7 linked regions of the Homo sapiens genome follow. The protein of the gene in region 7 purifies or fractionates together with the protein of the main gene of each other region. This does not show direct contact. Each region holds a gene or a part of one and is shown on either strand. Other genes may lie near its edges. The genes, in order: SLC7A11, GNAT3, RP2, ARGLU1, ZNF268, ABCF2 and OTUD3.

Evidence for each region.
Region 1: the proteins of OTUD3 (region 7) and SLC7A11 purify together in Homo sapiens (affinity purification with western blotting; one study listed by BioGRID). This does not show direct contact.
Region 2: the proteins of OTUD3 (region 7) and GNAT3 purify together in Homo sapiens (affinity purification with mass spectrometry; one large-scale study listed by BioGRID and IntAct). This does not show direct contact.
Region 3: the proteins of OTUD3 (region 7) and RP2 purify together in Homo sapiens (affinity purification with mass spectrometry; one large-scale study listed by BioGRID and IntAct). This does not show direct contact.
Region 4: the proteins of OTUD3 (region 7) and ARGLU1 purify together in Homo sapiens (affinity purification with mass spectrometry, with the first as the bait; one large-scale study listed by BioGRID). This does not show direct contact.
Region 5: the proteins of OTUD3 (region 7) and ZNF268 purify together in Homo sapiens (affinity purification with mass spectrometry; one large-scale study listed by BioGRID and IntAct). This does not show direct contact.
Region 6: the proteins of OTUD3 (region 7) and ABCF2 purify together in Homo sapiens (affinity purification with mass spectrometry, with the first as the bait; one large-scale study listed by BioGRID). This does not show direct contact.

The regions. Positions count from the first base shown.
Region 1 is NC_000004.12:138,239,550-138,243,570, reverse strand, and holds the start of SLC7A11 (cystine/glutamate transporter), read left to right. Parts: upstream 1-1,221; 5' UTR 1,222-1,501; coding exon 1,502-1,778; intron 1,779-4,021. UniProt on the Homo sapiens protein: Heterodimer with SLC3A2, that functions as an antiporter by mediating the exchange of extracellular anionic L-cystine and intracellular L-glutamate across the cellular plasma membrane.
Region 2 is NC_000007.14:80,488,065-80,491,564, forward strand, and holds part of GNAT3 (guanine nucleotide-binding protein G(t) subunit alpha-3), read right to left. Parts: intron 613-3,500; coding exon 471-612; intron 1-470. UniProt on the Homo sapiens protein: Guanine nucleotide-binding protein (G protein) alpha subunit playing a prominent role in bitter and sweet taste transduction as well as in umami (monosodium glutamate, monopotassium glutamate, and inosine monophosphate) taste transduction.
Region 3 is NC_000023.11:46,850,543-46,854,042, forward strand, and holds part of RP2 (protein XRP2), read left to right. Parts: intron 1-2,933; coding exon 2,934-3,500. UniProt on the Homo sapiens protein: Acts as a GTPase-activating protein (GAP) involved in trafficking between the Golgi and the ciliary membrane.
Region 4 is NC_000013.11:106,541,173-106,544,137, forward strand, and holds the end of ARGLU1 (arginine and glutamate-rich protein 1), read right to left. Parts: coding exon 2,824-2,965; 3' UTR 501-2,823; downstream 1-500. UniProt on the Homo sapiens protein: Dual function regulator of gene expression; regulator of transcription and modulator of alternative splicing. General coactivator of nuclear receptor-induced gene expression, including genes activated by the glucocorticoid receptor NR3C1.
Region 5 is NC_000012.12:133,212,495-133,215,332, forward strand, and holds the end of ZNF268 (zinc finger protein 268), read left to right. Parts: 3' UTR 1-2,338; downstream 2,339-2,838.
Region 6 is NC_000007.14:151,217,206-151,220,705, reverse strand, and holds part of ABCF2 (ATP-binding cassette sub-family F member 2), read left to right. Parts: intron 1-1,546; coding exon 1,547-1,642; intron 1,643-1,832; coding exon 1,833-1,952; intron 1,953-2,055; coding exon 2,056-2,145; intron 2,146-2,514; coding exon 2,515-2,625; intron 2,626-3,500. Other genes in the region: ABCF2-H2BK1 (ABCF2-H2B protein), read left to right, coding at 1,547-1,642, 1,833-1,952, 2,056-2,145, 2,515-2,625.
Region 7 is NC_000001.11:19,899,395-19,902,894, forward strand, and holds part of OTUD3 (OTU domain-containing protein 3), read left to right. Parts: intron 1-3,500.

The sequences.
Region 1 (4,021 bases), on a different chromosome or scaffold from region 7:
CGCACACAGGCTTTTTGTTTGTGGTTTTTGTTCAAAGGTTCAGAAGCTTATTTAATGGTGCGTATAAAGGTAGCTTCAGGGTAATGATAACATTCAATTCTTCTCACTGAATCCAAAACCACATGTAACTATAGCCAAAAATGATATCTAGGATTTCTTTTCTTTTCATATTTGTTTTTTCTTGACACTTGGTTGAGAAAGTTAGAAGGGTTTAAAAATGTTTTGCCTTTTTGACTATTGCAAAGTAAATATTTTAATTTAGCTTACATTTTTAATGCATTTTAAATTTATAATAATAACAATAGTTTATATAATGTGGAAAAAAGTCATACATAATATCATTACTTTCTATAACTACCATTCTGTTTTCCTTTACAGGCTTTTGCTATATACATATTTTTATGTAATTGTAATTGTGTAATTTTGAACTTAGAAATTTTTTTTGGTAATTCAAAGGAACAACATGACAATGAAGGATATGTATCTTTTACATAGTTCAAAAAAATCACCTAGTGCTAATGAGAATCAGAAAATGACTATTTTCTGGAGTCATGGTGAATTTTGTATTAGTCACACTCGGATGGTGATTTAAAATACTGGTTTATTATGAGTAGTAAGAAATAATTTTATCTTTTAATGTTGAGGAAGGCTTATAGTTGTGTGTATGTGACAGAAGTATAAAGTGTAGAATCTTTAATTTTGTAAATATTGGATTTGACTGTATTGCCTTATAAAAAACTCAAAATAAAAAAATAAAAAGCATTACACAAATTATGAAATTCAAACTGTGTTGTTATAAACAATGTAGCTTTAGGATACATTCTACTCACAAAACAGTCGCATGTAAAATGTTTTTATACACGCATTAAAGAAAAAGAAACTCCTTAAAATGAAGTAACTATTTCCTGTTTCATTTTGTTTGAACAGCTTTTGTTGCTCACTACGAGTTGCTTTAAATCTCTGGGAAGGTCTGTTCCGAATTTACTACTTCTGGATTGGCTAAAATCTCTTTAAAGTGTGTGCTTTGTTCTCTAAAAAGCTTAGGTCAGTTGAGCAACAAGCTCCTCCTGTTTTTTTCTTTTTTTAAAAAAAAGAGCTGAGTAATGCTGGAGGCTTCTCATGTGGCTGATGCAAACCTGGAGAATTTGCATCATCATTTAGCTGTAGTAAGTTGGTGTGACAGGCAGGCGCTTAAATACAAGCCCATGAGGAAGCTGAGCTGGTTTGTAATGATAGGGCGGCAGCAGCAGCAGCAGCAGCAGTGGTGGAACGAGGAGGTGGAGAATTGAGAGCACGATGCATACACAGGTGTTTCTGAGTAGTAATTAGATCGCTGTGAAGGAAAAAGCACACCTTTGAGTTTTCACCTGTGAACACTATAGCGCTGAGAGAGACAGTCTGAAAGCAGAGGAAGACATCGATCAGTAACACCAAGAGACACCAAAGTTGAAAGTTTTGTTTTCTTTCCCTCTGTTTTATTTTTCCCCCGTGTGTCCCTACTATGGTCAGAAAGCCTGTTGTGTCCACCATCTCCAAAGGAGGTTACCTGCAGGGAAATGTTAACGGGAGGCTGCCTTCCCTGGGCAACAAGGAGCCACCTGGGCAGGAGAAAGTGCAGCTGAAGAGGAAAGTCACTTTACTGAGGGGAGTCTCCATTATCATTGGCACCATCATTGGAGCAGGAATCTTCATCTCTCCTAAGGGCGTGCTCCAGAACACGGGCAGCGTGGGCATGTCTCTGACCATCTGGACGGTGTGTGGGGTCCTGTCACTATTTGGTGAGTGCGACTTTTTCTCTCGTGGGGGCGTGGCTGTGGGGCTGGAAAGCTTGCTTTCTGGGAAAGCAAATGGTAGTTTTTGAGGAGTGAATGGATGGCAAAGGCCACACCAAATTTTTAAAATTTTTGTTCGGGTACGTGAACTACCCAGATGCAGCATCCGCTGTTGGTGTGATCTGGAACACCCTCAAATTGCTTCCTACAGGCTGTACTTTCTTTTCCTGACTAAGACAGGCTATCTTCTGACTTTTCTCTGTGGTGATGAGAGCAAAGGCTAACTTTCATGACCCAGTAAAAAACATGCACACTTTCTGTGCCGGGCAGTTGTACACTTAGCTTGGGCATTCTGGCAGCTGGCATGCTGAATGAGACACCTGTGAAGTGGAACCTGGCATGGGCTATTTAGACATAGAACGGAGTGTTCAGCAGAAGTCTTACTGACTTTTTATTAGCCAAACAAATGGGTGGCAGTCTTTATAAAAATATTTTTTAAGTTCATGTGCTTGTCACCTCTTAATATCCTTTCAAAAGTCCTTGACATGGGAGAGATGTATGATGGCGCATAACTCAATCCCTATCATAATGGGGTATATTGCAATGGCCTGAGCATATTTCAAATTACTTTTCAACCTTTCATCTCTTCTCAATACCCATACACTTTTGCAATATAAGTTTTAAAACTTCAGTTGGGCGTTAGTTTTCTGTACTTGCCCAGATCTGTTTTTTTCATTATATTTCACTTGTTCTCCAGGGACACAGAGAATTTGTCCACCTGTTCACTAAATTAATCTGAAGGGAACTGGCAGAAGTATAATTATGAATTTTTCTTCAAAGTTTATGTCTCTTCTATTGATCTGAGAATTAATAGTAAAGAGGTAAATAAATGCCCCCTTATGGAGTAGGCAAATTACTAGAGAGCTACCTGAGTTTGTTGTAAAGATGATAAAAACTGGTGAACTGTCAAACATTAAATTTGATTTATGCTATGAGGATTTATTTACTCTTCTTGGGAAAGATTCTGTACTTTAAAGTTGCTCTTTGTCTTAACTCTGGGACTAACACTAACTAACAAGTACTAACGCTAACTCTAGGACTAATTAACAAGTACTAACTCCTGTTCCCATGTGTACCAATCAATTCATTCTTTCTACTCAGGCCTTGTGATGTTTTAAATCATTGGTTTGACACTCATCTAGAGAACTCAAATTCCATTTTTTTTTTTTTTTTGAGACAGAGACTCGCTCTTTGCCCAGGCTGGAGTGCAGTGGTGTGATCTCGGCTCACTGCAACCTCCGCCTCCCAAGTTCAAGCAATTCTCCTGCCTAAGCCTCCCGAGTAGCTGGGACTACAGGTGTGTGCCACCACGTTGGGCTTATTTTTCGTATTTTTTAGTAGAGATGGGGTTTCACCATGTTAGCCAGGATGGTCTCGATCTCCTGACCTCGTGATCCACCCACCTCAGTCTCCCAAAGTGCTGGGATTACAGATATGAGCCACCGCGCCCGGTCCTCAAATTCCATTTTTAGGAAGAAGTTATTTTAAATAGAACTTGTTAAAACAAGTAGTATAGAAAGATTTATAGAGGAATTATTTGGGGTTTTTAGAGAGAGTTTGTGGTATTATTTATAACTAACTTGTGCTTTATTAAATATTCAGTAACAATTGTGTATCATTATTTCCCAGTATTACTTCCCATCTTTATAAAATAATTTGGAGTAATATCATTATGAAAAACTCTAATAGTACCCTTAGCCACTATTAATATTAAAATAGCTCTGGTATATGCACTTATAGAAAAAGAGAAACCTAATTGTTGATCATCTTAAATGATTTTGTGCACCCTCAGCCTTTAAATCTTCCTACAGCACTTTATATATTCAGAATAAATCAATATCTAATCAGAAAAACCACAACCAGTTTACTGGACTTTGCGTACTTATGTGCATGCAGCTTCCACTATGTGATTCAATTTTTGCACATAATAAAAGATTATTCAGATGTAATAAAATAGATCAGTATGAGTATTGAACTAGTTAAAGTGTGTTGACTTGCACTATGAAAATATGCTTATGCATAAGTATTACATATCATCTGAAGCAAAAGCTCAAAAAAAAATAAAAAGAGAGAAACAGCTAAGGAGACTAGCTAACATTACACTTGAGTTGGTATTCTTTGATTAGTAATTGCAGGGAGTGTGCTCTTGTATTAATCTACTTATCTTTATTTGCATTGCATTTGTCACT
Region 2 (3,500 bases), on a different chromosome or scaffold from region 7:
TTTTTAAAAAAAAACTTATCAAGTAATCATTTCCCTGTTGCCACACAGACCTTGTAATCATCGTCAAACATTAATTATAATTGTTATGTTATTAAACATTTTTTAGTCTCTTTGAAATGGCATAACTAAAAAAATTAATGTAGAGATATTGCAAATTGTGTTTATGCCATAAATTCTTTTGTATTTAGCAATCACAAGCAATATTTTTATTTGTTATGGTGTATTATTTGATATTAAGTTTAATCCTCAGGAAAACAACTAATGTTGAATAATATTACAGTATATAGTAAAAAAGTTTCACTTCAAGGAAAATAAGAAATCTTACACAAAACAGAATTAATGTTTCAAAATTCATGTTTCATATTTTTAAATTTTGGATATAGATTAATACTATGAACTTATTAAGTCCTCTTATTTTATGGCTCAAACTCTATTGCAGGACATACAGCTGTCATTATTTGCATACTTACTGCACTTCTGGGATTTACATAATCAATTCCAAGGGTAGTCATGGCTTTCACAATAGCTAGGATGGATTGCAATGTATTACTGTAAATTACTGCTTTGAACTCCATGCATTCTTGCTCACTGTAACCATTCTTATGGATGATCCTATAATTTAAACATGAAAAGTTTCTGTGAGTTGAATAATTGATTGTAACACTAAAGCACATCCAACTAAGTTGCTTGAATAAAATTACAGTATATATTCATTAAAAAGGAATTTTGACCATACATATATGCTAACTCTAAACAATTTTATGCCTTTGGACTTTTATTATCATTGTCATTTATACAGTATTTTCTTTCTGGGCTACCCATGATAAATATGAAAAGACTTAGGATTTGTTATTTAAAAATACTTTTTTAAAATGGGTAAATCATAAGCATTATACTTAGAAAGTCTATTTTTTTAAGAGAAAAATTTCTAGATTCCCAGGACAAAGATATATACAGAGTTTGAAACTTGACCTTGTGTTTACAACCTGATGTCTAGAGGAAGCGAAGTCATTTAGAACATTCATGACTTTTCCTATCATGCTGAAAAATAGGAGTGCCTGCTTTCTATTTACAGCATTAACAAAGGCATCTTTTTTAGTACACGTAATTGCCCTGTTAAATTTCTTGTCAGTTCTCCATCTGTGTACGTGCCACTGAGTTATAAAAGTTGAAATGCCTGACATTTTATTTGGCTGAACTCTTCTCTACCTTCCACTCATTCAGCCAAACTCAAGATTTTACTAGTAGTTTTCGAATAATAGCTTAAAATAGATTTACCTATCAAAAGCTAAAATCGTTAGATATGCCAGTTACGTATTTTTGCATCTTTATTGTATAATTTTTTTTGTTCCTTTCTATTTTCTCTTATTGTCTTGAAGTCCTTTGTATTCATTAGGCATCTTTTTGGATGTCATATTACTAAAGATTTATATTGTGTCTACACGTATAAAGGCTTTAGCATGGGGGGAAAAGAGCATAAACACCTCTTTAATGTCTTTGAAGATATTAGAAGCTTCCTATACAAGAAATCTGAACTGAAAGGAGTAAAGGCACAGCCTATATTTGTTATTTGTTGTTTTTTATATTTGATTACAAATCATTGCTGAACTTCTACTTTAAACATGGTCATGTTTGTCTTGCTGCATTAAACCATTAAATAACTTACATAAGTAAATAAAATAGACAAAGGCTGTAGAAAAAAATGCAGTAAAATGTCTTTATGGATAGATCAAGAATAAGTTTATTAAAGAAATCCCAGTTTTCTGTCAAATTGAACTTGGAAAATTATTATTAAAATGGCAACTGTGAATAAACATGAGGCACTTAGGTTATCTTCATGAAACAAGTTCTGATTACTATGAGAAGATGAAGAAACATTTATCACAAAGAAAAATGATAAAAACAGAAGTTAAAATGTCCAGTTGAAGTGGGACTTTAAACAACATCGTTTTTCCAGGAGATGCATATATAAATTTCAGTGAGATAGAGCACTCCAACTGCAAAGTTGGTTCTGAGGTCTGTTGAAATTAATAAGCTTTTACTGTGCATTTTCTGTGACATACTGTGTTATGTGTTAAAGAAATACATTATACAAGTCTCTCCTTCCCAAAACCATAGACTAGAGCTCCTCTGTATAATACATTAGTCACTAGATGATTAATTAAAATTAAGTAAAATTAAAAATTTAGTTTCTCAATCACACTATCAACATTTCAAGTGGCTACTAAAGCCACATGTGGCTAGCAGCTGCCATATTTCAAGGCAAAATAGAGAACTTTCCTATCATCCCACAAAGTTCTGTTGAAGAGGACTGAGTTATAAGAAGGCAGAGCATATAAAGAGATTTTTAAACATTATGATAATGCATAGGAACAAACTCTGCATATAGTAAGATGCTATAGAAAAGAAAAAGTGATAAACTCTACTAGGTGTAAGGTATCAAAGAAGACATCCCGGAAGCAGTGATAATCAGCTGATTGTTCAAGGATAGTTATTCCTAGATGGTCAAAAGGAGAGAGAATCATTGTAGGAAGAAAGATCAGTATGAGCAAATAGATGCTCACAATTTTCAAGTGTTCAATATGTGCCAAGCACTATTGTAAGCACTTCATCTGTCTTATTTCTTACAATAAGCCCTTTAAAGTAGATACAATTATGATCTACATTTTATAAGTAAGAAATGTCAGCATAGATAAATTAAGCAAATACCCCCAACTTATTCAGTTAGTTTGTGATACACCTGGGCCACAAACACAATCTGATGTACAGTCCATGATCTTAGCCATGATGCTCAGCCTTCTATAGTGTGTTAGTCTACAGACTTATAAAAGGTCAGCATTAGTGAAGCAGGAAGTAGGGGAGAAATTACAGGACAGGAGGATGAAGACATCGGCAAGAACTGGGCTCCAGTGTCTTGTGTGCCATGGCAAGGAGATTGATCTTGACAGCAAGGGTGAAGAGTTGAATTCAGGAGATAAAATCAGCTTTAAATGGATCAGTTCATGGCAGTGTGGATAATGCAATGAAGGGAAGAGAAGGGAGGTAGAAGCTCCTTAGGAAGATACTGAATTAATCTAGGTCAGAAATGATGACCAATGGAGATCAATGACATGTTTGGAGACAAATTGTGTAGATGTGGCATGACTTGGTAAAAGGGTGAAGGCTTAGCATAACTATGCTGAGATTTATTGCGTTGTAGGCTGGCGTTGTTGTAATTAATTTTAGGGCGATAGAGGCCAGATGGGAGATAAGTTTAATGTTTATTCTGATTTGGACCTAGCCAGAGAATATAGCAGTAGATGTATCTGCCTCTCTAGTTTAGACAAAGTGTGTGAGTTTGAAAGAAATATTCTGAAACAGTCAGCTTGAAGATTCTGGTGAAAATCATAGAACTCTAGCAGTTTTCATTTTGATGAAGGTGCAGAGTAAGTAGAGAAGTGCCAGCATCTCCTGGTACAGTAGAGACACTAACATTTTAAATGTAGTCAGAGATAGAGTTA
Region 3 (3,500 bases), on a different chromosome or scaffold from region 7:
CATTCTGATAGCATGTGTAACACCAAACTACTTTCAGTTTTCCTCCTACTCCCTGAAGAATTTTACTTTGTTCCGTCTGTTACTTTTGCCTGGCATGGGAAGGGAGGGTCCTTTATTCCTACCCCTTTTACCTAATGAGCTCTAGCTTATCCATTCTCATGTTTTGCAGAACTTCCGCCCCACTTCTCTTCCCCGCCCCAGATGTCCCTTCTCTGTCCCCTCCAAAATATTCTCAGCATCTCTCATTACATGGTCAAGTTGTTTTTAGTTTAGATGAATGTTTACTTTTATGGAAAGAGCTGGTCCTATTCATTTTAGTGCCTAAAACAATGTCTGGCTCATACTGGGTATTCAAATATTGGTAGAGTGACTGAACATCCAGAAAGTTAAGGGGATTTTTTCAAGATCCGGTTGCTTATAGGGGACAAAATTGGGACTGGAAAATGAGTACTTCTTTTATTGCCTCATACTGCAGACCAGTGTTCCTCCTAGTACAGCATGTAAAACTGGCTAAGTACAATATCTATTGTGCAATTACTAAGTCAATTTAAGCTCATTTGCTAATCATTAAGATGATTAAATTTTGCTTTGTAAATCAAATTTTTACATATTGTATATATGGGAGCCTATGGTGCATGAATGGTTTTGCATGAAGTTTATATAGTCACAAACAGTTAAAACAGTTGAAGTAGATAAGAAAGTCACATGGAAGAAACAAAAATAGGCTTTTAGTGACCATATTTTGATAGGTCAGGTAAAATAAAAAAAATTAATGTGACATTTTCCAGGCATACTGTTTAAAAGATTATGTGGGCCGGGCTCGGTGGCTCACACCTGTAATCCCAGCACTTTGGGAGGCCAAGGCAGGCAGATCATCCAAGGTCAGGAGTTTAAGACCAGCCCGGCTAACATGGTGAAACCCCATCTCTACTAAAAATACAACATTAGCTGGGCATGGTTGCACACGCCTGTAATCCCAGCTACTCAGGAGGCTGAGGCAGGAGAATCACTTGAACCCGGGAGGTGGAGGTTGCAGTGAGCCAAGATTGCGCCATTGCACTCCAGCCTGGGTGACAAGAGTGAAACTCCATCTCAAAAAAAGAAAAAGGCCGGGCACGGTGGCTCACGCCTGTAATCCCAGCACTTTGGGAGGCCGAGGCAGGTGGATCACAAAGCCAGGAGATCGAGACCATCCTGGCTAACATGGTGAAACCCCATCTGTACTAAAAATACAAAAACAGGGGCCAGGCGTGGTGGCTCACGCCTGTAATCCCAGCATTTTGGGAGGCTGAGGCGGGCAGATCACGAGGTCAGGAGATCAAGACCATCCTGGGTAACACAGTGAAACCCCATCTCTACTAAAAAATACAAAAAATTAGCCAGGCATGGTGGCGGGTGCCTGTAGTCCCAGCAACTCGGGAGGCTGAGACAGGAGAGAGCCGAGTTCATGCCACTGCACTCCAGCCTGGGCAACAGGGCGAGACTCCATCTCAGAAAAAAAAATACAAAAACAAAATTAGCCGGGTGTGGTGGCAGGCACCTGTGGTCCCAGCTACTTGGGAGGCTGAGGCGGAGAATGGCCTGAACCCAGGAGGTGGAGCTTGCAGTGAGCTGAGATTGCGCCATTGCATTCCAGCCTGGGCGACAGAGCGAGACTCCGTCTCGAAAGAGAGAGAGAGAAAGGAGGGAGGGAAGGAAGGGAAGGAAGAGAGGAAGGGAGGGAGGGAGGAAGGAAGGAAGGAAGTAGCGAAGGAAGAAAGGAGCGAAAGAAGGAGTGAAGGAAGGAGCGAGCTATAGTTTGGAAGATCTAAGAATAGAAATGGCCAAATTTGAAAAATTGCGTTGTAGCTTAATAAATGCTTGAATCAAATTTGCTTGCATTTACATATTGTGATTCTTGTGCCTTCAGGTTCTTCTGTTTTCTGTAGCATATTGCAGAAATCAGTTGGGGTTTAGAAACTGAGACCATACATTGATTTGAAAAAGGATAGAGAAATATATTTCAGTCTGGGTACATTCCCAATTTCAGAATTTTATTTTATTATTATTATTATTTTTGGGACAGAGTCTCACTGTGTCCCCCAGGCTGGAGTGCAGTGGTGCGATCTCGGCTCACTGCAACCTCCACCTCCGAGGCTCAAGCTATTCTTGTGCCTCAGCCTCCCGAGTAGCTGGGATTACAGACATGCGCCACCACGCCTGGGTAATTTTTGTATTTTTAATAGAGACGGGGTTTCGCCATGTTGGCCAGGCTGGTCTCGAACTCCTGGTCTCATCTGATCCTCCCACCTCGGCCTCCCAAAGTGCTGGGATTAAAAGCAAGAGCCACTGCACCCAGCCTCAGATTTTTTTAGAAATTAGAAGTTTTAAAAATGAAGCATCAAAAAAGAAAAAGTATCAGAAAGCTGAAATAGCAAGGTCATGGTTAAGATCATTAGATACATAGGATATGAGTTGAATTTTTCATAGCGCTTTTATTAAAACAATCATTTAAAAATATATTTTTGACCCTGGTACTCTACAAAGCTTAGTACATTTTTTACTTTTATAAATTCCAAATAGGCTAAAAGCCTACTGACAATATTGACAGTAGCAATGATGATGTAGGTGTCACTTGGGTTAAGTCATGGGAAAACTCAAACCATAGTGTCACAGAGGCTACCCTTTAGCTTTGCATGCCCAGAACACAATTTAATAGCAAAGAGAGGGGATCTGTCTTCTGGGAGGTGTGTATGTTGACTAAGATCATAGGTTTTATATTATTATTGAGAGAAACAATTTGTCCTGTTCATTTTGTTACTGTGTTTCAAAGTCATTGAGATTAAGAATTTATATTTCAGCACTAAGAACTGTGCCTGGCAGCCAATAGTCCTTTAGTTGATACTTGTTGAATAATGTTAATAATACTCAAGGTCTGTGTTTTGTTCCTGCAGGTTGATCCAAAAGACTACATGTTCAGTGGACTGAAGGATGAAACAGTAGGTCGCTTACCTGGGACGGTAGCAGGACAACAGTTTCTCATTCAAGACTGTGAGAACTGTAACATCTATATTTTTGATCACTCTGCTACAGTTACCATTGATGACTGTACTAACTGCATAATTTTTCTGGGACCCGTGAAAGGCAGCGTGTTTTTCCGGAATTGCAGAGATTGCAAGTGCACATTAGCCTGCCAACAATTTCGTGTGCGAGATTGTAGAAAGCTGGAAGTCTTTTTGTGTTGTGCCACTCAACCCATCATTGAGTCTTCCTCAAATATCAAATTTGGATGTTTTCAATGGTACTATCCTGAATTAGCTTTCCAGTTCAAAGATGCAGGGCTAAGTATCTTCAACAATACATGGAGTAACATTCATGACTTTACACCTGTGTCAGGAGAACTCAACTGGAGCCTTCTTCCAGAAGATGCTGTGGTTCAGGACTATGTTCCTATACCTACTACCGAAGAGCTCAAAGCTGTTCGTGTTTCCACAGAAGCCAATAGAAGCATTGTTCCAATA
Region 4 (2,965 bases), on a different chromosome or scaffold from region 7:
TCTCCTGGAGGGGGAGGAGAGCCTCAAAAATTAGGATAGCCTGTCTTCAGTATTTCTCATGGCCATTAATACAAAACAGATGAATGGTTTTGCGTGTAAAGATGCAGAAAATTTAGACAACTGAAAAGAGACGCTCTAATGGATAGAAATAGCTTTGGAGAAATGTCAGTGAAGTGACAGGCTCCTCATAAAATGAGGCATTAGAAATGATACATAGAGTTCAACAAGTCAGGATTCTACGCTTACTATACTTAGAAAATTGAAAAAATACAAACCACTGAAAATTCTTAAGATACTGCTAAATCCAGGACAGGTGGTGATACAAAAAAAAAAAAAAAAAAGCTATGGACACATACTAGCACAGTAAATGAATACGGAGATTACTTAGGGTAGAAATAGTCTGATTTGCTGCATCTTCATAAGGGAAACTGAAGTAGGTAAAATCTCATACTACAAACCCCTTCCCCAATTTAAAGCATTAAAGAGTCCTCACACCAAGCTAATTTAAAGGTTTAGTTTATACAATTGATAATTCTGCAAACCACAATATGTCAATAACTACATACTGTAATAAAAATAAACAAAGTCATACTTAATTCTATAATGCATTAAGAATAACCTAAAAAAACAAATTGTGAATAAAGGCATATTTAATAAATTAGGGAACATCTTAACTTCTAATAGACTGGGGGAAATTTTTAAGTTTTCTATGTACACAAAGGCAGTGGGAACAAATGAAAAAAACAAATTACTACATTGTTGCAGCACATTAAAGACTGGATGGTGTATATTATTCACAATTACATCCTCTTTCCCATAGCCTGGCAGAGGAAAGTAGTTACCAAGCACAGGAACAATTTCAACATCTCACTGGAGTCTCCAAAAGCAAGCAGATACTGCAGGATGTCATTAAGCAACTTACTGTCACTTCACACCATATGTGGCAGTAAGAAACTTAAAAAAAAAATTAAAAGGCACGCATAAGCTGATTTCAAATATTTTAAGTCCAGGCTACTCTCTTTAGATACAATGTTTTGAACACTTGTATAGAACAGTTTTTAAATAAACATTTCCAAAAACTTGAATACAGAACTTAGGAACCATGAATCTTCACCAAAAAAAGTTACATTGAAAAAAAAAAAAATTCATGAAATAATTACAGCTAACCTATATTTAGAGATAAAATATTTTTTGGCAACCTATATTCTTTAGGAAAATAAAATGTTTGATTTTAGAGTAAGTAGTATGTTTACTAAAAGTTCTCACTATATTTCATGCCTATTTAAAATTCTACCTTTAAAGATCTTTAAACTGATTTTATATTGTTCCTTACCACAATTAGACTCATTGAAGAGCTCAAAACTAAAGCAACAGCATTTTTCCTAGCATGCACACACAAAATAATCTACCATTTAGTCATCTCTTTAGCTTATGTTTTCAATTTTTAAGAATAATCAAACTGTCTAAAAAATATTGGGCAAAAATAAAAATATTTTCTCTACTTGATGACATGTTTATGCATCTCAGGTAGCATTTTAGATCAATATCCTTTTCTTGAATGTTTTAATACCAGTATACTTAAACATATGTTAAGAGTAAATGAGGCAGATTCTAGTGTATAAAATGAAAGCCATTCATAAGATTTCACATGCAAAAAAAAAAAAAAAATTCATAAAGTTCAAATGTGTTTGTCCTAAAAATAAACGTGCAAGTACACTACACAATGAAAATGACTCGACCATCTTAGCCTTTTTTTGACAGTATAAAGCTAAGTTCTTTCTGATGGCCCACTCTGAAAACGATCTCAGATTCCATAATTTAAAAGCATTTTTCTAGCCTTTATTAAGTATACTTTGTGATAATACTTATATCCTAAAACAGAGGCACAGGTTTGAGAATTTAAATCTTCTGGATGTTGTTAGTCTTTCTTAAAGGTAACACTGATGCCATTTGCTCTATCAGCATAAAGTTGATATTTGTAAAAATAGCCATTAAATACTAATTCACAAGTATATTTAATGTACATATAAACCCTATGTTAAAAGTATAAACAAGAGGAAATATAGTTCTAAGACTTCTAAATGGTTGACCATCAAAAAGTGAACCACCCTCTTTAAGACTTAACATAACATTAAAAAAAATTGCTTCAACATATGAATTTAAGACTTTACTTTATTCAGCAAAATCATTTATTTACACAATGGGGAATGCTGGTTTGATTTTGTCAATGAAATAAAAACAAAATGAACAGAGACAATACTGAACTGTATATATACTTTGTATCAGAGTTGACCAACTGTTTCCTTACCTGTATCAGGAACATCAAGAGCAACAGTATCACAAGGACACTGGTTTAACAATACACCACATAGGTCCAGTAATACCCTGGGAATTTCCCAATGCAATCACCAACTTTTTCTTTTTTTATAAATATATAAAAAAACAAAAAGTCAGCAAAACCAGCATTATGATGTAGCAAACAGAGTATAACTCTGAAGTCAGTGGGGTCAGTAAAAGCCTTATCAGACCATCCATAGTTTTACAATGTGATCTGCTCTTCCTCAGACCACTAATATAGAATCCAAACAGGTGAAAAATACGTCACTCCTTAGAATACAACAATGATCTGATAAGGATTTGACTTAGTGGAAGGAAAAAAAAAAAAAAAAAGGGAATTGCAGAGCATAGCCCCTATTAGAACAAGCTAACTTTCCAGATTTTACAAATTAAAAAAACAAAAACAAAAACAAAAAACCACTTCAACATGAAGCTACCATACAAAGTTTTTCCATTTTTCTTTGTAAAAAGTTCAGAGTTTGCAATTTAATCCTGGGTTTTTAATGAGAAGGACAGTTTTGGCCTGGACTTCCCCTTGCCCAGGATAATTTTTTGTTCTTCTTTTTGTTGACGTTGTCGTTCTTGTTCTAGTTTCATCCTTTCCTCATGAATCTTTCTTTGTTCTTCA
Region 5 (2,838 bases), on a different chromosome or scaffold from region 7:
ATATGTATATATACACACACACATACACACATATATACACATATATATACACATATACACATATATATACACATATATATAATAAGAACATTTACCATTTTAACTATTTTTAAGTGTACACTTCAGTGGCATGAAGTACATTATTTCCATTATTGTGCAACTATCATTTTACATTCCACCAGCAGTGCACAAGGCTTCCAATTTCTCCACATACTTGCCAATATTAATTAGTTTGTTTCTCTCTCATTTCATAGGCATGATCATAACTCACTGCAGCCCCAACCTCCTGGGCTCAAGGGATCCTTCCACCTCAGCCTCCTGGGTAGCTGGAACTACAGGTGCCACTACACCCAAATAGTTTTTTGGTTTTTTTGAAATGGAGTTTCACTCTGTCACCCAGGCTGGAGTGCAGTGGCACCATTTCAGCTCACTGCAACCTCCGCCTCCTAGGTTTAAGTGATTCTCCTTCCTCGGCCTCCTGAGTAGCTGGGATTACAGGCATGTGCCACCATGTATGGCTATTTTTTGTATTTTTAGTAGAGACAGGGTTTCACCATGTTGGCCAGGCCAGGCTAGTCTCAAACTCCTGTCCTCAAGTGATCCACTTACCTTGGCCTCCCAAAGTGCTGGGATTACAGGCTTGAACCACTGCACTTGGCCTCCATATTTTTTATAATAGCCACTCTAACATGTATGAAATGGTATCTCATTGTGGTTTTGATTTTCCTTTACCTAATGGCTAGTGATGTTGAAAATCTTTTCATGTACTTCTTGGCACTGGATTTGGCAATGATTTATTGGATATGACACCAGAAGCATGGGAAACAAAAGAAAAAATAGGTAAATTGGACTTCACCAAAATTGAAAACTTTCGGCATCAGTGGACACTATCAAGAAAGTGAAAAGGAGCTGGGTGTGGTGGCTCACGCCTGTAATTCCAGCACTTTGGGAGGCCAAGGTGGGAGGATCACTTGAGGTCAGGAGTGCGAGACCAGCCTGGTTAACTTGGTGAAACCACGTCTCTACTAAAAATAAAAAAAAAGAGAAAAAAAAAAGCCGGGTGTGGTGGCATGTGCCTGTAATCCCAGCAACTCAGGAAGCTGAGGCAGGAGGATCGCTTGAAGCTGTGAGGTGGAGGTTGCAGTGAGCCGAGATCATGCTACTGCACTCCAGCCCAGGTGACAGAGCAAGAAAGCAAAATTCCATCTCAAAAAAAAAAAAAAGGCCGGGTGTGGTGGCTCACGCCTGTAATCCTAGCACTTTGGGAGGCTGAGGCAGGTGGATCACGAGGTCAGGAGATCGAAACCATCCTGGCTAATGTGGTGAAACCCTGTCTCTACAAAAAAATACAAAAAATTAGCCAGGCTGGTAGTGGAAGCCTGTAGTCCCAGCTACTTGGGAGGCTGAGGAAGGAGAATGGCGTGAACCTGGAACCAGTGAGCCCAGATCTCACCACTGCACTCCAGCCTGGGCGACAGAGCGAGACTCCGTCTCAAAAAAAAAAAAGGTGAATATAGGAGAAAAGACACTGTAAAATAATATACCTGATAAGGGTCTAGTATCCAGAACATATAAAGAACTCTTACAACCCAACAACAAAAAGACAACCCAATATCAAAATGGGCAGAGGACTTGAAGAGACTTTTCTGTAAAGAAGATATGCAAATAGCATATGAAACGATACTCAACATCACTAGCCATCATGGAAATATAAATCAAAAATACAATGAGATAACACTCCATACCCATCAGAATGTCTTATTATTTTAAAAACAAACCAGAAACAAGTATTGACAAAGAAGTGGAGAAATGTGAACACCGCTGTAAAATGGTAAAGCTGCTATGACTGACCCTTGCTACAACGTGGAGGAACCTCAGAAACATTGTGCTGAGAACCCAGCACAAGGCCACACACCTGTAATCCCAGCTACTCGGGAGGCTGAGGTGGGAGGGTCGCTTGAGCCTGGGAGTTCAAGTCCAGTCTGGGCAGCATAGCAAGACTCCATGTCTACAAAGATAAAAATAAAAGCAATGTGCAGAAAGAGGCTGGCCACAAAAAGGTCACATACTGTATGATACCACTTATATGAAATACCCAGAATGGGTAAATCCAAAGAGAGCATATTGGTGGTTGTCAAGGGTCGGAGGGAGGATGAAATGTGTGACAGCTGCTTAATGGATGGAGGATTTCCTTTGGGGTGATGAAACTATTTTGGAACTAAGAGGTGGTGGCTGCACAATGTTGTGCATGGACTAAATGTCACAGAAATGTACATTTTTAAAAGTTAATTTTATATTGTGTAAATTTTACCTCAATAAAAAAATCTAGTCCACAGCATTCCCTCACCAGGGTCAGCCCTCTTAGCCTCACATTTAAGTCCCTCCATAGCCCAGTGCTGCCTGGGCCTGGCCAACCACATTCCAGACATGTGCTCCAGCCACACCATCTGCCAGCTCCTAAACCCATGGCTGTTTCATCATTCCAGGTCCAGGTCACCTTCTGATGCCTTCACAGACACTAAGTGATCAGCAGTGCCTCCTTAGGGCACACAGGGTCTTTTGAAACTTGCATTGCTGGAATTCATAGCTCGGCACGTGGTATCCAAGGGTTGTCCCATTTCAATAAGGAGAAATCAGTGTTTTCTGACCATCACCATGCAGCTATCTTGCTCAGGTGACTCACAGCTATCTGCTAGGTATGGCTAGTTCCTTGTGCAGAGGGGAGGGCCAGGCTCAGGTGATTGAATGATTCACCTGCAATCACACAGCCTCCAAGTGAGGTTCACACTCAGGTTCCAGCCCAGAACCTCGTTTCCAGGTGCCACTCAAAGTTTGTGA
Region 6 (3,500 bases), on a different chromosome or scaffold from region 7:
TCCCTCTGCCTTCTTGAATGCCTTCTTAATTCTGCTTCACTGGAGTCTACACATTTACCCCACCTCCCATGACCACAGGAGAATGGGGGTCAGGATCTCAATAGCCCACTGTTGTGCCTTGCCTTTTCATTTTATATTTCAAAAAGCATGTAAGAAACTAACGATTGATGTCCTCTTCATTCATAGTCATAGGAGTATTAGTTTATAATATAGCCTTCCAGAAACTTCATGTATACTTGCACACATTTGTAGAAAATGTCATGTATACGTAATCTTTTTCTTTTTATACAATTGCAGCTTTTTTTTTTTTTTTTTTTTGAGCTGGAGTCTTGCTCCGTCGCCAGGCTGGAGTGCAGTGGCGCGATCTGGGCTCACTGCAACCTCCACCTCCCAGGTTCAAGGGACTCTCCTGCCTCGGCTTCCTGAGTAGCTGGGACTACAGGCGCATGCCACCACACCCAGCTAATTTTTGTATTTTTAGTAGAGATGGGGTTCACCATATTGGCCAGGATGGTCTCCCTCTCTTGACCTCATGATCCGCCTGCCTCGGCCTCCCAAAGTGCTGGGATTACAGGCGTGAGCCACCGCACCCGGCCTCTTTTTTCTCGAGATGGGGTCTGTCTCTGTCACCCAGGCTGGAGTCCAGTGGCGTGATATTGGCTCACTGCAACTTCTGCCTCCCAGGTTCAAGCGATCCTCCCACCTCACCCTCCCAAGTAGCTGAGACCACAGGCACATGCCACCATACCCAGCTAATTTTTATATTTTTAGTAGAGACGGGGTTTCGCCATGTTGGCTAGGCTGCTGTCAAACTCCTGGCCTCAAGTGATCCACCCACCTCAGCCTCCCAAAGTGCTGGAATTACAGGTGTGAGCCACTGCACCTGGCCACAGTTACAATTTTAATAATCATTCTGTAGGTTGCTTTTTTAAATTTAGTATATTTTGGACTGCTTTCCATGTGAGTATATATAAATCAATCACAATCTTTTCAGTCACTGCATAGTATTTCGTTATGTGTTTATCCTGTAACTTGTTAGGCCCTTTCTGGTGGATATTTAGCTTGAGTCCAGTTTTTGTTTGCAGATAGAAACCATGGTAGTCCACTTATGCAGGGTTTGTCAGCTTCTAAATCTGAATGGTCTGTTTTCCCCTCTGGAGACAGCTCTTGCAGTCTTTTGTGGGGCTTCAGCCTCTAGGGAACGGGGAAGGAATAGGAGGTGGTATTGGAAGGCTCTGAGCCTCGTGACGTCCGTATGACCGTGATTTTCAGGACTATTCCCAGTGCCACAGGTGTCTTTCTAGCTAACCTAAGGATTTGCGCTGGAGCCTGGCCCTGGCTGGGCTGAGCGAGGGGCATAGAATTGAAAAGACTCCGATTTGATGTTAGGATATGCTTCTGTAATGCACGTCCTCTCTTCTTACTGCACAGCCTTAGAGCCAGGGCCAAGTTAGTGCCATCCCTCATCCCCCTAAACTCTGAGTGAGAATCCAGGATTGAAACCCAGGTTAAAGCTGCCTGCCTTACCTGGCACATTTCCATGCAGGGTAATTATGATCAGTACGTGAAGACGCGGCTAGAGCTGGAGGAGAACCAGATGAAGAGGTTTCACTGGGAGCAAGATCAGATTGCACACATGAAGGTAGGGAGACTGCAGAGTCAGGCTCATGGCCTCCTGTCTGAAAGAAGCAGGGGGCTCGGATGAGGGCATTTCGAGAAGCGGTAGTGATGGAGGATGTCGGGAAGAAGTTACGATCAACATTTTTACCCTGGATTGAAGATGAATTGTTGAGCGCCTGCACATACTCCAAGCTCTCTTTGGTCTTTTTTAGAACTACATTGCGAGGTTTGGTCATGGCAGTGCCAAGCTGGCCCGGCAGGCCCAGAGCAAGGAGAAGACGCTACAGAAAATGATGGCATCAGGACTGACAGAGAGGGTCGTGAGCGATAAGGTGGGGTGTGATTGGGTGGGGTGTGATTGGGTGGGGTTGGGTGGCCTAAGGTGAGGTGGATAAGAAAGGAGCCAACTTGATAAATGCCCTCTTTTCTTCCTAGACACTGTCATTTTATTTCCCACCATGTGGCAAGATCCCTCCACCTGTCATTATGGTGCAAAATGTGAGCTTCAAGTATACAAAAGATGGGGTAAGTTCAGGGCAGGGCATGGGTGGCTGGGGTGTATCTTAGGGTGAGTGGCAGCTCATGGGAGTTGCTCCTGTTCTGTGCTGACCACACCTGCTAGCCCACGTGCTCTGGGGGATTTTCAGGTGTGGCAGCTGGGGTGCCTCATCCAAGGCTGCTCGCGGGCCTTTCTTCGTGTATATGGAAAGAAGACTACTCAGCTGGGTTGGTGGGCGGAGGCAGTGGGCGAGGCGGGGTCTGCTATGAGTGCTTCCTCCCGCTACTCTCCCTTCCTCCTCTCTTGGTGACTGGGAATTCAGCGGGCTTGGTCTGCTGGTCATAGCAGATCTGTATTCTAGCCTTGTGTCCACATCTCTCTCATCCCCACCTCAGCCTTGCATCTACAATAATCTAGAATTTGGAATTGACCTTGACACACGAGTGGCTCTGGTAGGGCCCAATGGAGCAGGGAAGTCAACTCTTCTGAAGCTGCTAACTGGAGAGGTATGGTGCCAAGGTGGGCGTGGATCCCTCTAAGATTAGGCCTTGCGATGGTTAAGGAAGAGGGGAGTGATGCAGGGGCTACTACTTTGGGAGGGCCTGAGTACCCTGGTGGTGAGTGAGCCATCTGGAGGGGTGGAGCAGCAGCCAGGAGAGGGGGAATGTCTGGTTGGACAGTGCTGAGGCTGGGGGCTGTTTTCCTGGGACAGGGATAGGTAGGGAGGAGTCTTAGAGTGTGTGTGTGAATACATGTATGTGTTTAAGCACGTTTCTATTTTCTTTTTTTTTTTTTGAGGTGGAGTCTCGCTCTGTTGCCCAGGCTGGAGTGCAATGTGCGATCTCAGCTCACCGCAACCTTCATCCCCCGAGTTCAAGCAATTCTCCTGCCTCAGCCTCCCAAGTAGCTGGGATTACAGGCACACGCCACAGCTAATTTTTTTGTATTTTAGTAGAGATGGGGTTTCACCATGTTCATTAGGCTGGTCTTGAACTCCTGACCTCATGATCTGCCCACCTCGGCCTCCCAAAGTGCTGGGATTACAGGCGTGAGCCACCGCGTCTGGCCCATGTTTCTATTTTCAATCAGAGCATTTAGAATATAGGAACATCTGTGCATTTAGGGATGCTGCAGGTTCTCAAGTAATGTCATTTCATTAATATTGATGAAAAATAGAAATGATTCCCAGCTGGGGCCACTGTCTTTGTGGAGTTTGCACTTTCCCTTTAACGTCTACATGGGTTTTCTCTGGTACTTCAGTTTCTTCCCAATTCCAAAGCTGCACCTGTCAGGTTACTTGGAACGTCTCAGTGGTTCCAGTCTGAATGAGTGCGGGTGTGTGAGTGCATCCTATAATGGAATGGTGTCCTCTTCAGGGCTG
Region 7 (3,500 bases):
CTTTTTAAATTTAACATGTCTTGGGATTTAATTCATGGTAGTACATAAGGAACTTCCTGTATCCTTTTTAAAGGCTGCGTAGTGTTCTGTTCTGTAGATGCATTATAATATTTTTGACCAGTCACTTACTGATGGACTTTTAGGTGGTTTCTAACCCTTTGCTATTATAAGCAATGTGCAGTACCTTTTATGTACCTCATTTCACTCATGTATCTGTGGGACACATTCCTAGAAGGTCCTTGCCACATCAGAGGATGTTGATAAGTGAATTGTCAAATTACGTTCTAACAAGATTTCACCGGTTTAAACTCCCACCTGCAATATGTGGCTCTTTTCCTGCACGGTGCACTTCGTCAACATAGTGTTACCAAATTTTTAAATCCTTTTCATTGTTAGGGGAAAAATTGTTTACTTAACCTAGTTTTAATTTGCATTTCTCTTATTTATGCATCTTTTCCTGTGTTTAAGACATATTTCTATTTTTTGTAAATGGTATTCATTTTCTTTCTCCATTTTTTTCCTATTAAGTTGTCTTAATGATTTTGGGGAGCTTTTTATGTATTAGGGAAATTAGCCTCTGTCTGTGATATGAGTTGCAAATAGTTTTTCGCACTCTGTCATTTGTCTTTTTGTTCTTTCTCCTGTGGTCTTTGCTATGAAAGAATTTTAGATTTTTACATAGTTAAATTTGTTACGATTTTCTTATATGCCCTTTGGATTTTGGGTCATAACTGGGAAAGTCTTTCCCACTCTGAGGTTAAAAAGAATTCTCCCATAGTTTAGAATAGTACTTTCATAGTTTCACTTTATTTATTTATTTATTTTTTGAGACTGGGTCTCACTCTGTCGCCCAGGCTGGAGTGCAGTGCTATGATCATGTTTCACTGCAGCCTCAACCTCCCAGGCTCAAGCGATCCTCCTGAGTAGCTGGGACCACAGCTGTGTACCACTATGCCTGGCTAATTTTTTATTTTTTGTAGAGACAGGGTCTCACTTTGTTGCCCGGGCTGGTCTCGAACTCCTGGACTCAAGCAACCCTCCTGCCTCGACCACCCAAAGTGTTGAGATTACAGATGTAAGCTACTGCACCCAGCTCATAGTTTGACTTAAAAAAAAAATTAAATCTTGGCTTCATCTGAAATTTATATTGAAATAAGGGTAGGAGGCTATGGATCCAACTTTATATTTCCCTTGTGATTACCTAGTTGTACCCAAACCATTGATTAATTATACATCTTTTCTCCACTGATTTAAAATGCCACTTTCTTTCCATATACTAAATTCCCATATGTATTTGGGTCTATTCCTAGACATTTGGTTCTGGTCCACTGATCTCCCTGTTCACATGTTGATGCCTCATTGTTTTAGTTGGTATATTTTAAAATCTGGTAGGATTTTTCACTCATAATTAATTTTCTTTTTATAAGTTTCCTTATATGTTGTCTTTTTTAAAAAAAACAAAATGAATGTTAGAATCAATGTGTCTAGTTCAAAGGAAATCCTATTGAGGTTTTTTTTTTTGTTTTTTTTTTTTTTTTTTTGAGACAGAGTCTTGCTCTGTTGCCCTGTTGCCCAGGCTGGAGTGCAGTGGTGCAACCTCTGCCTCCCGGGTTCAAGCGATTCTCCTGCCTCAGCCTCCCGAGTAGCTGGGATTACAGGCGCTCGCCACTACCCTTGGCTAATGTTTGTATTTTTAGTAGAGACGGGGTTTCACCGTGTTGGCCAGGCTGGTCTTGAACTCCTGACCTCAAGTGATCTGCTTAACTTGGTCTCCCAAAGTGCTGGGGTTACAGGCGTGAGCCACCGTGCCCGGCCCTATTGAGTTTTTTAAAATTGGAATCTCATTAAATTAATAGAGTAATTTAAGGAAAAGCTGACATCTTTTTGATGTTGAGTCTTTTATTATTTAATTGACTTTGTGATCCACAGGAACATTTTCTTCATATAGATCTTGCCCACTTTTTGTTGAGTTTATTCTTAGGAGGTGTTTTGTGTTTTTTGTGTCTATTGTAAAGAGATCTTTTATGTTTTCTAGTTGGTTATCATTTGTCTGTGAGAGCTGTTAATAACAAGATGTTAATTACATAGGTATCCCACAGAACCCCTCTTTTTTTAAAAGTTAAGGCAAAATTCACATAACATAAAATTAATCATTTAAAAATATATAGTCCAGTGGTACTCAGTACATCTGCAGTGTTTGTTGTACAACCACTTCTTCTGTCTAGTCCCAAAATATTTTCATCACCCCAAAAGAAAACCTCATATCCATTAAGCAGTGACTCCCAATTCCCCCTCTCCCCTAGCAGTCACCAATCTGCCCTTCTTCTCTATGAATTTGCCTATTCTGGACATTTTATGTAAATGGAATTATATGTGACTTTTTCTTTGTGGCTTCTTTCCCTCAGTATAATGTTTTTGAGAGTCATTCATGGTGTAGCATGTATCAGTACTTCATTCTTTTTTATGGCTGAATAATATTCCATTGTTTGGAGAGATGATTTTTTGTGCACCCATTCATCTGTTAATGAGCATTTAGGTTGTTCCCACCTTTTGGCTATTGAGAATAGTGCTGCTGTGAGTATATGTGTACAGTATTTTTACAAATACCTATTTTCAGTCTTTTTGGATATACCTCGGAGTGGAATTGCTGGGTCATATGATAAACCTAAATTTAACATTTTGAGGAACTGCCAAACGGTTTTCCACAGCAGCTGCACTGTTTTACTTGCCACCGGTAATGTATGAAGGCTCTGCTTTCTCTTCATCCTCTCTGACAAATGTTTTTTTCTTAAATGGTCATCCTAGTTAGTATCTTAAAGTTTTTTTTCGAGACGGAGTCTTGCTCTGTCGCCCAGGCTGGAGTGCAGCGGCACGATCGTGGCTCACTGGCAAGCTCCGCCTCCCGGGTTCACGCCATTCTTCTGCCTCAGCCTCCCGAGTAGCTGGGACTACAGGGACCCACCGCCACGCCCAGCTAAATTTTTGTGTTTTTAGTGGAGACAGGGTTTCATCGTGTTAGCCAGGATGGTCTCGATCTCCTGACCTCGTGATCCACCCACCTCGGCCTCCCAAAGTGCTGGGATTACAGGCATGAGCCACCACGCCCGGCCAGTATCTTAAAGTTTTGAATTGCATTTTCTTAATAGCTAATGACATTGAACATCTTTTCATGTGGTTTTCGGCCATTTGTATATCTTTGGAAAAATGTCTATTCAAGTCTTTTGCCTATTTTTTAATTGGGTTCTGCCTTTTTGAGTTGTAAGAGTTTTTTAATATATTCTAGATGCTAGATTCTTACCCAGGTATATGATTTGCTGTAATTTTTTTGGTTTGCAGTAGTTTTTTGTTGATTCTCTTGTTTCAGTTACAGAATTATATCATCTACAAAGACAGATTACTTTTTTCTTTTTAATTTTATACTTAAAATTTATTTTGGCTAAATACTTTGGCTGTTACCTCCAAAATATTGTTAAGTAATAATGGGGGGAGTGATTATTGTG